Linked DNA regions of Homo sapiens. The protein of the gene in region 1 purifies or fractionates together with the protein of each later gene. This does not show direct contact. Each region holds a gene or a part of one and is shown on either strand. Other genes may lie near its edges.

Region 1 (3,818 bases):
AGATCGAGACCATCCTGTGACTGGTGAAACCCTGTCTCTACTAAAAATACAAAAAATTAGCTGGGCGTGGTGGCGGGCACCTGTAGTCCCAGCTACTCGGGAGGCTGAGGAGGGAGAATGGCGTGAACCCAGGAGGCGGAGCTTGCAGTAGCCGAGACTGTGCCACTGCACTCCAGCCCGGGCGACAGAGTGAGACTCTGTCTCAAAAAAAATAAATAAATAACTAAAAATAAAAATAAAAATAAAAATCATATATTTAAAAAAAACATGCTTATCAAATAAAAGAAAAAAATAGATCGCACCACTGCACTCCAGCCTGGCAACAGAGCGAGACTCTGTCTCAAAATAAATAAATAAATAAATAAAAAATAGGCCGGGCGCAGTGGCTCATGCCTGTAATCCTAGCACTTTGGGAGGCCGAGGCGGGCGGATCGTGAGGTCAGGAGATCGAGACCATCCTGGCTAACATGGTGAAACCCCGTCTCTACTAAAAATACAAAAAAAATTAGCCAGGCGTGGTGGCGGGTGCCTGTAATCCCAGCTACTCGGGAGGCTGAGGCAGGAGAATCGCTTGAACTCGGGAGGTGGAGCTTGCAGTAAGCCAAGATCGCACCACTGCACTCCAGCCTGCATGACAGAGCGAGATTCTGTCTCAAACAAAACAAAACAGAACAAAACAAAAATAAATAAATAAATAAATAAAAAATAAAGAATGCTACCCCTGTGACAACACCTTCCTTATTTGGGCTTCCCCGGTCTGGCTCCTGGCCACTCACCTTGGGCTCACCCTGAGCTGCAAAGCGGGTGCGCAGAACATCCACGGGGTGCACAGTGAGGGTGGCCATACAGGCAGCCAGGCCACCACATACAAAGTGCACTGAGAATTCCCGGGCGTCATACACGCTGCCTCTGTGGACCAGCTCCGTCAGCATTTCAAATGACAAGAACTGCAAGAGTAAGTGAAGAAGTCACCGACAGCCCAAAGGATGAGGGTGAGGACCAAATACTCCCCAAATACATCACCCGTGACCCGGCTGGGGCCCAGGTGGAGGGGCGAGGAAAAGGTCAGGAAATGTTCTTCTTGAGCAGTGACAGCATATGATAAATACAACATTCTACGCAAAACTCGGATGCCATTTGATACTTGAGTAGAGTCAGACACTCAAAGGGTTAAGAAGATATATGGGGGCCAGGTGCAGTGGCTCACACTTGTAATCCCAGCACTCTGGGGGGCCGAGGCGGGCAGATCACGAGGTCACAAGTTCGAGACCAGCCGGGTCAACATAGTGAAACCCTGTCTTTACTAAAAATACAAAAATTAGTCAGGCATGGTGGCGGGCACCTGTAGTCCCAGGTACTTGGGGGGCTGAGGCAGGAGAATCACTTGAACCCGGGAGGCAGAGCTGCACTGAGCCAAGATCATGCCACTGCGCTCTCCAGCCCGGGCGACAGAGCAAGACTCGGTCTCAAAAAAAAGACTGGGTGCAGTGGCCCACGCCTGTAATCCCAGCACTTTGGAAGGCCGAGGTGGGCAGATCATGAGGTCAGGAGTTGGAGACCAGCCTGGCCAATATGGTGGAACCCTGTCTCTACTAAAAATACAAAAATTAGCCAGGCATGGTGGCGTGGGCCTGTAACCCCAGCTACTTGGGAGGCTGAGGCAGAAGAATCGCCTGAACCCAGGAGGCGGAGGTTGCAGTGAGCTGAGATTGCGCCACTGCACTCCAGCCTGGGCAACAGAGTGAGACTCTGTCTCAAGAAAAAATAAAAAAGATACATGAGAACAATGTATATCAGAAAATGTCACTGGCTAACTTAGTTTTCTGAGAACTGGGGAAGACGGCCATGCTCTGATTCCTGCAGGGACCCCTTCAGTGCAGCTGGCGGCGGCACCTGGTGGCGGCACTGTTCGAGAATCATTCTTTTCTGGGGCAGATTCTTTTGGGAGCATGTTCCACAGGGTGACCCCCTTACATTCAGATCTTTCTTTTTTTTTTTTTTTTTTTTTTTTTAGGGACAAGAGTGTCTCTCTGTCACCCAGGCTGGAGTACAGTGGCACAAACACGGCTCACTGCAGCCTCAACCTCCTGGGCTCCAGTGATCCTCTCACCTCAGCTCCTCAAGTAGCTGGGATTACAGGCGCATGCCACCATGTCCAGCTAATTTTGGTATTTTTTGTAGAACCAGGGTTTCACTATGTTGCCAAGGCTGGTCTCAAACTCCTGAGCTCAAGCAATCTGCCCGCCTTGGGCTCCCAAAGGGCTGAGATTACACACATGAGCCACCGAGCTTGGCCCTGTTTTGCTTTTTGAGGCAAGGTCGTGCTCAGTTGCCCAGGCTGGAGTGCAGTGGCTCGATCACAGTTCACAGCAGCCTTGACTTCTCTAGCTCAAATTATTCTCCTGCCTCTGGAATAGCTGGGACGACAGGTGTGTACCACCATATCTGGCTAATTTATTTTTTATTTTTAGTAGAGAGGAGGTCTCCCTAATGTTGCCCAGGCTGGTCTCAAACTCCTGAGCTCAAGCCATCCTCCCACCTCAGCCTCCCAAAGTGATGGGATTACAGGTGTGAGCCACTATACCAGGGCTATGCTCAGATCTTCCTTCAGCCAACTGAAGATGGCCTGGCTTCTTTTCTTTTTTTGAGACAGGGTCTGGCTGTGTTGCCCAGGCTGAAGTGCAGTGGCATGATCGTGGCTCACTGCAGCCTCCGCCTCCCGGGCTCAGATGCTGGGATTACAGGTGTGAGCCACTGAGTCCAGCCCACGCCTGGCTTCTTGAGACTATCCTGTTGCTGTATTTATTCGTCATGCTGCAATATCTGTTTGCAGACAAGTGCAGAGACAGGATCGCAGGGCATGCCCAGCCAGTAAGCACCTGACTTGGGCGGTCACTGTGATGTCACAGGAAGAGTAGGAAGGGACATCTCTGGCACTAGCTGCCTAGGTGGGGGTCGTGGCTCTGCCATTTTCTAGCCAGTGGCTTTGGTTGGGTTAATTATGTAAGCTCTGTCCACCTCAGTCTTCTCATGCATGACATGGGAGGGACAACAGCCCCTACCTTAAGGACTGCTGTGACAGAGTGTATGTGAAGTGCTTCCAACAGGGGCCTGGCCCATGGTTTGCACTGTACAGGGCTGGTTCTTAAACACATCTACTGCATAAAATCACATGCTGTGCACTATGACTATACTAGTGCTCCACTGAACGAAGCATGAGTTCTAACCCTAGCCCCGCCATGTGCAGGCTGTGTGGCCTCGGACAGCTGACTTCTCCTCCCTGAGATCCACATGACAGCTACCCTGCCCTCCTCATGACGGTGTGGTGAAGTTCAGATGAACCACATATGTGAAGGTGGTATTTCAAAAACTGAAATGCATTAGTGCTGTCCTTCGCCAAGCCTCACAGAAGGCATGACATCAAATCGGTCTCCAAGATGCAACACCTAAGTCACACAGGATAGACGCAGGGACATGGCGGAGGGCAATGCCTACGGTACTGCTGGTCAGGAAGGCTCCCGGGTGAGGCAGGTGGGAAGCGTGGGGCCTGCCTCTTCCGTCCTGCCCTGCGCGGCATTCCTGCTTGCCTCACCCTCCCTCTGCTCCTCCACTGAGCAACGTGACCCCAGAGGTCTGGCCAGGTCCCTTGCCACCTACTTGGACAGCTCCATAGCCTATGGAGAGAATCTGAGCTGGGACGTGTCCTTTCCAGAAAGCTGTCGGACCCTCCTCCTGCAGAATCTGCCTAGAGGCCTGGAGGATGCCATGGTACTTTGCGCTGGGGTCACTGCGAGACAGGCGCTCATGCTGAAGCTAGG
Region 2 (3,818 bases), on another chromosome or scaffold:
ACCCAACCCAATACATACACACTCACACATTTACCCACACTTACACATAAACCCACACACTCTTGCTACTGAAATTGTACTCTTAAAGGTTACTGATGACTTTATCAATTGTTTTTCTCTGTTAGTTTAGATTCACCTAATTACAAAAAGGATTTGAGATGCTACCCAATGAGCCATATAGTGCTATGCTGTCCAACACAGTAGCTACTAGCTACATATGGCTATTTAAATTTTAACTAATTAAGGCTGGGCACGGTGGCTCACACCTGTAATCCCAGCACTTTGGGAGGCTGAGGCGGGTGGATCATTTGAGGTCAGGAGTTTGAGACCAGCCTGGCCAACATAGTGAAACCCCCATCTCTACTAAAAGTTAAAAAATTAGCTGGGCAATAGTGGCGCGCACCTGTAATCCCAGCTACTTGGGAGGCTGAGGCAGGAGAATCGCTTGAGCCTGGGAGGTGGAGGTTGCAGTGAGCCAAGATTGTGCCACTGCACTCCAGTCTGGGCGACAAAGTGAGAAAAAAAATTTTTTTAATTAAATAAAATTTATTTACATAAGCTTTTTGTTTATTTAAACTTTATATTTAAATAAAATTAATTTTTTATTTAATTTTCAGTCATACTAGCCACATGTTTCAAGCTCTCCTTAGGTAGATGATAGAACTTTTCCATCACAGAAAGTTCTATTGGACAGTGCTGATATACTGTCCTATAATATGTTAGTAATGATACCTAACTTTTCATATAGTAGAGTGTAAGCCATTTGAGGGTGGCATAGTCACCTGTTTATAAAGTTCTTATTCATATTTGATGATTCACTTATTAGTATTAGAAGTTGGTAATAAGAATAAAAACAAATTTTGATTTTATCAAAAACACTAAATGGAGGAATCTCTAAGCACTTTATGCAATTTTGATTCTGACTATATTTGCTAAACACTAATATCACACACATGAAAATCCAGTCCTGATCTTAAGCTACATCCTTTCAACCGTGATGAAGCATTGTTTCCTGAATAATGGAAATCATTCAGTTTTTGAACAGATGCGTAATGAGTACCTATGTGCCAATCACTAGGCTAAGATTGCTCTAGTAAAAAAGATGGCAGTTCCTGCCTTCACAAAACTTATGGGGTAGAAGGGAAAACAGATAGTAATCTATAATTATAATAAAATACAGTACATGTTGGAACAGAATATCTGCCAGGAGTACTTAACCTAGTCTAGGGGTCAGAGAAGATCTGATCTTAATTTGTCACTTGGGTTTGGCCTTAGAGATCTTTGCTGCCTCTCATTGTTCCTGCAACACAGTTTAACTGAATGATTTTTTTTCATATTTAGTTGCCTGAAACCCACCAACTCCTACAGTTGAGACGATTTGCTCATGGAACAGCAGGTCTGGTGTTCCTTACGGCCCTCTCAGGTAGGACTCAGCTCATCAAAGATGACCTGTTTGCATTGCACTCTAAGCTGGGACCTCTTGCCTAATGCTTTGCCCCTTCCTCCTGCATCTTTATATTTCCTTTTCACATCTGTTTCTCTCATTCCCCCATCTTCACCCTGTTTCCTGTTCCTTTCTCTCTTCCAAAAATTCTACTTTACTGTCAATTGAACAAAAATATTGAACATCTACCTAGATCCAGATGGCCTAGGTTCAAATCCTGGCTTCACTACCTGTGAACTATATGACCTTTGCAAGCTCTGTAACCTCTCTGGGCCTTAGAGACCTTATCTATAAAATGGAGATTACGACAACAGTATGACTGCTAAATGTGAAATGTGTAGCATCGTTGTTGGCATGTAGCAAAGGCTACATAAGTGTTAGCTGTTACTATATATAAACATTGTTATCATCACATTACATCAACATGGGTCAGAGAAAAGGCTTGCCCTCAGAGATGGTTGCAGGTGGAGAGTTCATTGGCACAGAGAGACCAACACAGGATTTTTTCATTCTTTTTTTTGAGACTGAGTCTCACTCTGTTGCCCAGGCTGGAGTGCAGTGGCATGATCTCAGCTCACTGCAACCTCTGCCTCCCTAAATCCAAGCGATTCTCGTGCCTCAGCCTCCCGAGTAGCTAAGACTACAGGTGCACACCACCACGCCCAGCTGATTTTTGTATTTTTAGTAGAGATGGGGTTTCACCATGTTGGCCAGGCTGGCCTCGAACTTCTGACCTCAGGTGATCCACCCGCCTTAGCCTCCCAAAGTGCTGGGATTACAGGCATGAGCTACCATGCCTGGCCGTTTTCATTCTTTAACCCACACTTCCACCACTGCTGCTCTCATTCTAGAACTGCACTATCCAGTAGAGGAGCCTGTAGCCTCATGTGGATATTTAAACTTAAATTAATTAAGGTTAAATAAAATTTAAAATTTAGTTCTTCAGTCACACTAGCAACATTTCAGATGCTCCACAGGCACATGTGGCTAGGGGCTAGTATATTGGTTGGCACAAATATAGAATACTTCCACTCTCACAGAAAGTTCTATTGATAGTACTGCTCTGGACTAAAAATAATATTGATTCAAACCAATGAGCCACTCAACACTTTTATTTTTGGCATAAGAGCATGAATTTTTACTTCATAAGGGACATTTAAAAAAAATATGGAGTGGGTTGGGCATGGTGGCTCACACCTGTAATTCCAGCACTTTGGGATGCTGAGGCAGGTAGATTGCTTGAGCCAGGGAGTTCAAGACCAGCCTGGGCAACATGGTGAAACCTCGTCTCTACAAAAAATACAAAAATTAGCCATGTGTGGTGGTATTCACCTGTAGTCTCAGCTACTCAGGGGGCTGAGGCGGGAGGATTGCTTGAGCCCAGGAGGTCGAGGCTGCAGTGAGCGGAGATTGCGCTGCTGCACTCCAGCCTGGGTGACAGAGCAAGACCCTGACTCAAAAAAAGAAAAAAAGGCCAGGCATGGTGGCTTATGCCTGTAATCCCAGCACTTTGGGAGGCCGAGGCAGGCGGATCACCTGAGGTTGGGAGTTCGAGACCAGCCTGGTCAACGTGGTGAAACCTCGTCTCTACCAAAGGGCGCACCTATAGTCCCAGCTACTCGGGAGGCTGAGGCAGAAGAATTGCATGAACCCTGGAGGCAGAGGTTGCAGTGAGCCGAGATCATGCCACTGCACTCCAGCCTGGGGGACAGAGCCAGACTGCGTCTCAAAAAAAAAAAGAAAGAAAAAAGCGAGTGTGACCCAAACATTTCTGGATTTTCTTTGATAATAAATAATGGATCAGACATCCATTAATTCATGAATACCCTCTTTATTTGTTTATCCAGGATTTAGTTTATAAGTTTTGGGATTTTTCTCACTTCCGTATTCAGTCAACAAACATTTATTGAGCATTTGGGGAAGACAGATAACGCACAATAGAAACATAATGTGCTAGATGATATTTAGTGCCATGAAGAAAAATAAATTAGGGTCAGGAGACAGAAAGTGGGCTAGGATCATCAAGCGAAATCTCTTTGGTAAGGTGACATCTGAGTGGAAGCTGAGGAAATAAGGGAGTCAGTCATGCAGACATCTGTGGGAGAGCATTTCTAAAATAAATCAGTAGCACTCAGTGGCGGGGTGAGGAGGGCATCAAAATCACTAAGGGAATTTTTCTAAGCTAATAAGCCTCTCCCCCTCCCCCCACACCACAGCCTCTACTCCACTTCTCTAGAGGAAGCAGAATCTTGGGGTGGGAGCAGGTAAGGATGCAGAGATTTGAAGTTTCCTTGGTGATTGTGATGTATCTTCTCTGTTGGAGAACTCCTGTTGCAGATATGTCTATTATTCTCTGACTGTTCCCTTAGTTTAA

What was found.
Region 2: the proteins of SLC25A19 (region 1) and COX15 fractionate together in Homo sapiens (co-fractionation; one large-scale study listed by IntAct). This does not show direct contact.

The regions. Positions count from the first base shown.
Region 1 is NC_000017.11:75,282,647-75,286,464, forward strand, and holds part of SLC25A19 (mitochondrial thiamine pyrophosphate carrier), read right to left. Parts: intron 3,814-3,818; coding exon 3,658-3,813; intron 948-3,657; coding exon 777-947; intron 1-776. UniProt on the Homo sapiens protein: Mitochondrial transporter mediating uptake of thiamine diphosphate into mitochondria. It is not clear if the antiporter activity is affected by the membrane potential or by the proton electrochemical gradient.
Region 2 is NC_000010.11:99,718,592-99,722,409, reverse strand, and holds part of COX15 (heme A synthase COX15), read left to right. Parts: intron 1-1,341; coding exon 1,342-1,423; intron 1,424-3,818. UniProt on the Homo sapiens protein: Catalyzes the second reaction in the biosynthesis of heme A, a prosthetic group of mitochondrial cytochrome c oxidase (CcO). Heme A is synthesized from heme B by two sequential enzymatic reactions catalyzed by heme O synthase (HOS) and heme A synthase (HAS).